Regions from separate parts of the Homo sapiens genome. Here region 2 is linked to region 1. A link means that fine-mapping ties the variant in region 1 to the expression of a gene that starts in the linked region. Tissue or cell type: skeletal muscle. Region 1 holds a variant in brackets; the other region holds the start of a gene. All regions are shown on one strand. Distances are between the middles of the regions. Region 1 overlaps TMX4 (thioredoxin related transmembrane protein 4). Region 2 holds the start of TMX4 (thioredoxin related transmembrane protein 4).

What was found. PIP is the estimated chance that this variant, and not a neighbour inherited with it, causes the effect.
Region 2: TMX4 starts here. The variant in region 1 is the best candidate, but not a certain one, in a credible set for the expression of TMX4 in skeletal muscle (GTEx, PIP 0.55).

The regions. Positions count from the first base shown.
Region 1 is chr20:7,989,713-7,994,106 of GRCh38, reverse strand. The region is part of intron 5 of TMX4 (thioredoxin related transmembrane protein 4); the gene reads left to right. Among named protein-coding and RNA genes, the nearest start is that of TMX4, 28 kb to the left of the region's middle. The variant G/CTACAGAGTGG (reference allele first, on the strand shown) is at 2,195.
Region 2 is chr20:8,017,746-8,022,139 of GRCh38, reverse strand. TMX4 (thioredoxin related transmembrane protein 4) reads left to right here and starts at 2,379. Exons shown (of 8, transcript NM_021156.4): 1 at 2,379-2,702. The coding sequence starts at 2,527. It overlaps TMX4-AS1 (TMX4 antisense RNA 1), which reads right to left and starts at 2,234. Exons shown (of 7, transcript NR_184034.1): 1 at 2,036-2,234; 2 at 879-1,749; 3 at 1-81. RefSeq lists silencers at 2,379-2,618, 2,729-2,868.

The sequences.
Region 1 (4,394 bases):
AAATGTACAATTATATAAATGTATAATTGTAAAATAGTTTTATCTAGTATTAATACCATGTGTTTTCTTTTTTATAAGCATTTGCATGGAGTAATTTTTCTATTTTCAACCTTTTGATTATGTTTTAAATAAATCTTATAAAAAGTATATAGCAAGATATAATTCTTTTAACTGATGAATTTAATCCATTTATATTTATTGGGATCACTAAAACATTTGTCCTGATTGTAGGGTGTGTGTATGTAGGGGAATGGAAGAGAGTTGCACATAAAAGAACGCAAATGATACAGTGTTATTTTGATCTCCGTGTGTGTGTGTGTGTGTGCATTACCTTAATAATTTGTGAAATCTGATACTGCCCTCCATATCAGCATGTAGCCTCCCCAAGCCTCTTGCCAACTTTTGTGATTTATTCTTAGAAATAAGTCCCCATCCTTTCATCAGATCTGTAGGTAGGTCTCTTGCCACCTGTGTTTCTAGAATGTGGCCCTTGTCCTCTGATTTATAAGGCACACCATCTCTGACCTAAAGAGACCCAGTCCTTGGCTACCCATCAGGTCTCTGGTCCCCACTCCCACCTTTAGTTATGGTCTTGCCTTCCTGTCTTTATAGAGCCACTTACTCAGCGAGTCCTTCCAGCTGACTGCCCTGCCTGCTCAGTTAGCTCATTTAGCTGACTCTTCCTTTAGTCAGAGTTCCTCAAATCCATGTTGAATGTATAATTGTGGCAAACGTATTTGTTTTTTAACTCATGTCTAGATCATATGAAACTACAATGCAAATATATTAATAATGAACAGAAGAAACAACTGTACATGGTGAGACAGAAATAGACTAGGGATGGAAGGTGGAACCAAAAAAGTGTAAAGTCTCAGAGAAAGAAGATTATAAAGATGGAAGAAGGAAAGACGTAGAATGGCTAATGCCAGTGAGACAAGATTGTTTATGCCTATCCATAGTCTCTTTATCTTACTGAAATATCTGGATACATGTACAGATAGAAATCAGTCTTTCCTCAGCAACAGTCTTCCCTGGATGGGTAGCTGGTTAGATGTAAGTATATCTGCAGGGAAGATGACAAAACAGTATAATGGATGTTTATATGGCGTTTTTGTGTGTATATAGGAAAATGCTTAGAGATCAACAGTAGTTTTCTCTGATATGGGTGATTTTTAAAAACGTTTTTTCTATAACTTCTATTTTCTTCTGTAATGAAAAAATGAAAACAATATATTTAGATCAGAGCCTATTGAGCTAGTAATTATCTAGAAGATATCTAGAAGATCAGAGATATATCTAGAAGATCAGCGCCTACTGAATTAGTGATTCCTTAAGGGGCTTGGGTTTCTTTCTGCCTTAGAAGTGAAGCCAACTTGCTAGGTTGCACATTCTGGAGATAAAAGCTGGTCCTCAAGATTCTAGGATCACCTGGTGATGAGACACTCACATGGCCGAATTCCTATCAACTCAGGAGTTGGTTTGGTTTGCATTTGGCCTTCTTAACTTCATACCAACCTCCCCTATGTTCTTGCTTGAGTAAACTGTTGAGGTGAGAAAGTCCCTTGAATAGTCTTATGAGGCAGTTCCTGTCAGCTTCCTGCTGTTACCCTGAATCCCAGGGATCCTCGATATGTCATTCATACCACAATATGGACAAGAGTAGATGATCTCCAGTGTTCTTTCCATCACTAAATTTAAATTTTCTTTCCAATTCACTCATGATGGCGCTCACCTGCATATTTTAATTTTTATATAAACTCACAGAAGTAATTACCTCATTAGCTGTTAATATCTATCCTCACAAATAGTCTCAACATTTTACCCATCTCACAGATGGAGTCACTGAGGCCTAGGAGATGGGACAGTTAGAGGAGTTTCTCAGAGAGTTGACATCTTCAAAGGACAAAATTGATTTTGATTTTATATTATAGTAGCAATATCCAATTTCTTTAAAATTGTATGCAACTTAGTGACTAAATGAAAAATGTTAATACTCTAATGGATAGTACAAGGTGAGGTGAATATCATAAAAGCAATGTGCAGAAGATTGAACTTCAGGAAGCATCACTGCCAAGTCTGGTGGCATAGTTAGGATTAGAAGTTCTTGGGTTTTGTGTGTGGCACATGTGTGGAGAGAGACTGTCCAGTCTTCTGTCTTCCCTCTTTTCACAGTTGGCTACAGTGCTACAGAGTG[G/CTACAGAGTGG]CACTATCCTTCTCTTCCAGAAACACATCATTGTTTCACACCTTATGTGTAGGCCCCTGAATCCTATTTTTTTTTTTTCCAGCCATAGACTTGTTCCTAGAACCCTTTGAGTGCCTAGTGCAGAATCTGGTACCTAGTTAATGTGCTTGATAATTGCTTTTTGTTAGTTATATGTATTAATCATTATTGTCTTCATTATTTTACTTTTTCCTTCTCTTTATAGCCAACGTGGAATACTTTAACTTTTGTTAATTTTTTTAGCCAATGCTGATAGCAGGCTTAAAATAGGGTTCCGTGGCAGTTGCTCAGCATATAGGTTGAGCATCCCCAAATCCAAAAATCCAAAATCCAAAATGCTCCATAATCTGAAACTGTTTGAGCACCAACGTGACACTTAAAGGAAGTGCTCACTGGAGCATTTTGAATTTCCGATTTTTGGATTTGTGATGTTCACCTGGTAAGTGTAATGCAAAAATCTGAAAAAATCAGAAATCTGAAGGCTGTCTGGTCCCAAGCATTTGGAATAAGGGATACTCAACCTGTATATGCTTTTGCGAACTAAGTTTAGCATTTAAATGTATTTAAAGCATTTTTTATTGGATTTGTTGAATCTCTGCTGCTCACTGATAATATAGGATGTAACTTCCCTTTCCTAAATGTTACTGTCGTTTTGAGAGGATGTAGGCATATGGCAGATTTTAGCTAAAATAAGATGTGCTACATCCTTGGGAGGACAATCTGTGTGATGGATGCTACCTTCCCTTTTTATTAGAATGACGTGACAGAAAACTTAAGGCTTTATTTAAAATATCTGATGATGAGAATTAAAAGCCATGAACATTTAGACTAGAGAAGAACAAAGTGTATTTTAAAACTTGAAAACATTCTTCTGTGATTTACATAGCATGCCTCTTCTCAATGTTTTTTTCGTATAAAAATGTTTAGAATGTTTTGTAGAATGTTATAGTGAGACAGTGGTGCACATCTGTAAGGTACCTTTCATAGATCCTACAAGAGGCTGCAAGGTTATGTTTTGTTACAAGTGCTAAGAGCTAAAGCATGAAAGAGGTGAACCCTTGGCCATCATTGAAGAGTCTTTTCTAGCTGTTTCCTTGCAGGGAAGATATTTTGGGGATTCTGATCTGTGTCTGAAAGAGATAAAGGGCTTGTTCCAGAACTCCTCAGAGAGTATATCCTATGACACAGGTGAACTCTAAATCCAAAGGCTCTCTGTCCTTCAGGGCCAGTCTAGGTTTGAATGAGACTCTGCAACACTGGGCTGGATGAGTGGGTGTGACTAAGTAGTATTTAATCCAACCTGCAGTAGTTTAGACTTCCAGAGGGAGTGCTTGCCTTTCTGGGGAGGGAAGGCTCTACCTCAGATGCATGGAGGCCTTGGCTTGGCTGTCTTCCTTAAGTCTGTCTGACCACTGATTAGAATGCTCTTCTCATTTATTCTGTTGTAATGATGTTTTAATTTCATCTTCTCACTCAAATATGTATGTAGCCAAAAGTTAGCTCTAACTTAATCATGTACTATGATAGTATAAGGTGTCACACCCATCAGATGACATTTTAGTGCATTTTCAGTGAACAGACTAAGATTTTTTTTTTTTTTGAGGCAGAGTCTCACTGTGTCACCCAGGCTGGAGTGCAGTGGGGCGATCTCAGCTCACTGCAACCTCCGCCTACCGTGTTCAAGCAATTCTCCTGCCCCAGTCTCCCAAATAGCTGGGACTACAGGCGCCTGCCACCAAGCCCCACTAATTTTTGTATTTTTGTTAGAGACAGGGTTTCACCATATTGGCCAGGCTGGTCTCGAACTCCTGACCTCGTGATTCACCCGCCTCGGCCTTCCAAAGTGCTGGGATTACAGGTGTGAGCCACCGCGCCCAGCCCGAGTAAGATACTTTCTTATTCATCTAGTACCATAGTATAAGGTATCATGCCCATCAGTTTACATTTTTGTGCATTTTCAGCGAACAGCATGGGATATTTCCTTGTGGTAAGCACATATAATATTGAATAAGGATCAGTATTTTCCACAAGTGAAAACTGTCACTTTGCCTGGTAGTTAAAGAAACAGAAACACAATGATCTAAAACTGAATTGGATTTTATTTAATAAGCTATTCCTTTGGAAACATATATAAAGCAAAACTTCAAGGACATGGTACCACTAATCCTAACACTCATAAGGG
Region 2 (4,394 bases), 28 kb before region 1:
GGAAGCCTCACAATCATGGTGGAAGGCACGGAGGAGTAAGTCATGTCTTACGCGGATGGCAGCAGGCCAAAAGAGAGACAGCTTGTGCAGGGAAATTACCATTTTTAAAACCATCAGATCTCATGAGACTTATTCACTATCACGAGAACAACATGGGAAAGACCCGCCCCCATGATTCAATTATCTCCCATGGGGTCCCTCCCACAACACGTGGGAATTAGGGGAGCTACAAAATGTGATTTGGATGGGGACACAGAGCCAAACCATATCAGTTATACAGAAGAGCAATTGGATCTGAGAAGAGACAGCAGCTCATTCTGCATGAGCTATCAGAGGTACAGTGTGGACTACATGACAGAGACTGAATGATTCACTGGACAACTGGAGAAGAGTGTTCTAATCAGAATGAAGGAGCAAGGAGACACTGAAGTACACAATGTGCTTTGGGAATGGGGAGTAGCTTTGTGTTACTAGGACACAGGGAACTCTGGGAATAGTGGAATGTAAAGTGGGCAAAACTGAAGCTGGGCTGTGAGAGGCATTGTGTATCATGCTAAGTGAAGTTAACTTTAGTATAAGAAAAATAGACATTACAGCGTATTGTTGCCTCCAAATAATAATATTAGTGTTGGCAATATTGTGGCAAAAACCACAATTATGTTTGCACCAACCTAATATGTAAGCTTTTTGAGTTAGAATATGTGCTAGGCATTATTCTTATCTCATATAATCTTCACAGCCACCTTTTGGAGCAGGTTCTATTACTACCCGCATTTTAAGAGAACTTTGGTGTGGACTAGTTTTAGCCCCAAATCACATGGCTAGGAAGTGTCAGGGCTAAGATGCCAATCATGGTCTGACAGCAACAGGTCCCTTACCCTGGTCTGTGACTCCTTACGGCAAGGTCAGTCCCATACTTCCTTGCTACTTTCTTCCTACCATCCTTAGTCTGAAGGCTAAGACTTCAGTTTTTGTTAAAGATAGGAAATGCTTTGGTAATGGCTGTCTTTCATGCTGAAGATGCTCTCTCTCCTTTTAGCTTTTCATTTTGTAAATTTTCCAACATATGCATGAGTAGGTAAAGTAGCAAAATGAACTTAGCTTCAACACTGACTGATGTTGCACCACTTTTCTTTCACCTATCTTCTTTCCATTCCCTACATTTTATTTCTGGAGCATTGTAAAACAAATTCTACACATCATTCTATCATGAAAGTGATAAAATGACAGAATTCCTGTTTATGAGTCACTTCTTTTTACAAGCACAGTAAAATGTTTTCCATTGAGTTTATGGAATTGATATGTATGTACTTAATAACAGTGAGTCTTAGTAGCATTCATTGCAAAGACATTTTCTTAAATTTCAATAGTTTGTAAACCCTTGAGTGTTTTATTTTAATGATAAGGGCTAGGTCCACATAGTTTTTAGCTAATACTAATTAATGCATAATGCAGGCCAGATCTTCTCTTCAGGCAAAATTAACTTCCCTCTCCTATAAGTATTGATTGAAATTTGCTCTCATGTGCCCTGAAGTACTTTTAGTCTTATTGCTGTCTTTGTTTTAAGCCGAGGGCAGAAACCACATCCTTTTCATGGTCTATTAACCACATTACCGAGGTTCATGGTTTGCACAACTAGTAAACACATACAAAGCACCCTTTGAGAAAGCTTCCTCATCCTTTAATTGTAATCCAGTCTTATATATTAACGGTGTGGTGGTCCCAAGGTACAGATTCATCTAATGTGACCTGGAAAGAAATTTGGAAATCACTTAAGGCTACCCTCATTTTAGATCTGACAAAACTGTAGTCAAGAGAAATGTGAGGTCCATTTTACTGCAGGTGGCAATAGTCTTAATTGACTCATTTTATCGGCTAGTACCCATGTTTTTAAGAGTTTCTATGAAATTAACATTTTTTGTAAAAAAAATGCAATTGCATAGGCTAGTTTCATCAATATCCTAAATTAGTGATGCTTCAATATACACATGCAGAGTACTTAAATTTTCCTCTCTCTTCAGCAGGAGATACTCACCACGTCCCTCCATTTTTCATTAAACATACGTGTACCTTGCAGCCCGTTGCTTTTATATTTGCTATCATTGAAGAGGGGATGGATTTTAAAATTACTGGCCATGTTTCCCTTTAGAGAAGCCCACACGCGCCAACCCTGCCCTTATTGGAGCCTGGGCAGCAGCGGTGCATGTTCTAACTTAGGCAACGTTGGGTCATCTGTTTATTGTCAGCTTGGCGGTCAGGAAGAAAGGGCGGTGGTTGCTGAGGTAACCGACACCCCGGGCAACGGCAAGTGGAGGCGGGAGGGGGCGTGGCCTCGACGGGCAAGCGGCGATAAGAGGTGGCGTCCTCCGCGGCATTGCGAGCACCGCCAGTCTGCGCCGCTAGGCGTAGGCGGGGTGGCCCTTGCGTCTCCCGCTTCCTTGAAAAACCCGGCGGGCGAGCGAGGCTGCGGGCCGGCCGCTGCCCTTCCCCACACTCCCCGCCGAGAAGCCTCGCTCGGCGCCCAACATGGCGGGTGGGCGCTGCGGCCCGCAGCTAACGGCGCTCCTGGCCGCCTGGATCGCGGCTGTGGCGGCGACGGCAGGCCCCGAGGAGGCCGCGCTGCCGCCGGAGCAGAGCCGGGTCCAGCCCATGACCGCCTCCAACTGGACGCTGGTGATGGAGGGCGAGTGGATGCTGAAATTGTGAGTGTGCCCGCCCGCCCCGGACGCCGCAGTGTCCTCGCGGGCGTCACCCTCCCAAGCCCGCGCGGCCCGGTGGCGATCCCGCATTGCCGCTTGGGCTCAACCTAAAACCCCGGACCAGGCTTGCCAACAACCTGCGGCGCCGGTGCCGGGCCGCTTGCGATCCTGCACTGCCGCTGGGCTCGACCTGGGGTCCGCGGACCCGCCTTACCAACGACCTGCGGCTGTGGGGCCCGGCCGCTCGCGCCGCGCATGCGCGCCGAGCCCTCGCGGTGACAGCCGAGGGTGCAGCGCGTCCCCTTGCTTTGGGGGACAGTGTTTTCGGGGTGGAGTGGGCAGCTTCCCATAGGGAGGAGAAGGGAAGGAAGAAAATCTGCAAGCAAACCGTGTGCTTTTAGATACAGATATGTATTGGAAGAGAAAGGACATTCAGTGACATCCACGTGCAGTATGAATACGTAGCACAGGCTAAGCAAGTTACCTGTTGAAGAAATTGCAGCACGGTGAAGGCAGGCCATTTGTGTCGTAGTCTTCCGTTTGAAGACCTGGAGATGTCATTGTGAGAATAAAACATAAATATGGATGCCTTTTAAATTTTACAGTATGATTTCAAATAAATGTTGATACTTATTATAACTTGTAAAGGTAGGACTTTCTGAGTAATATTAATAATTGTGCCATAAAGAAAAGAAGATACGCATTGCCCCTTTTAACAATAGAAAGCAAATGGTGGATAGTGCCTTTTCTTTAAGGAGATGGGAAACTACAGTTTTGAGTTAGGAGAAAGAAAGGGATTTGTTGATTATAGTTTAACCTTATAATAGGAAGTGACCATTTGAAAGAGGCTTGCAGTGGATGGTGGGCAGATGTCTGAGCGGGCTTGAGAGACCATCATGGTGGGCTTGCAGACTCTCTCTCTCTCTCTCTCTCTCTCTCTCTCTCTCTCTCTCTCTCTCCCCCTCCCTCCCTCCCTCCCTCCCTCCCTCCCCCTCTCTCTCTCTCTCCTCTCTCTCTTCTCTCTCTCTCTCTCTCCCTCCCTCCCTCCCTCTCTCTCTCTCTCCTCTCTCTCCTCTCTCTCTCTCTCTCTCCCTCCTCTCTCTCTCTCTCTCTCTCTGTCTCTCTCTCCCCTCCCACAACTCCTTTCCACCCTACCTGCCCCCCTCCCGCCCCCACCCCCCAAACATAAAATCTTTCAGGAAATTGCCACATCTCTTTAGCCTGTGGTTTCTGGCAATCTGTATACTACTATTGAATCTTTGTTTTACGTTGAGGACACAGACAGAAAATTGGATCTTTCCTTTATCCAAGACCAAGTTTTGATTCTTTCAATTTAAATTGCAAGCAGGTGCCTATGGAGTGAAAACCTCAGTGTGAGATCAGAGCCAAAATTTATGTCACACAGCAGATTACATTGCTCGAAGAACATAAGGCATATCACCCCTTCAAATGTGCATTTACCTCTTAGTCACAAAGAAGGGGATATTTTAGACCTCCAAATGAAATACCCTTGGTATCATAATAAATCAATGAAATTATTAAAGGGAACTGTAGACATGAATTATTAAAATATTCCACTTAACTATTTTTGGAAGAAGGTGAGGGGGTCATATTCTATTTGAGAAACTTTTAAAATAAGTGGAGCTGTGTTAAGACTTCCATGTTTGTAATAATTTTAAGAGTTTGGGATAAACT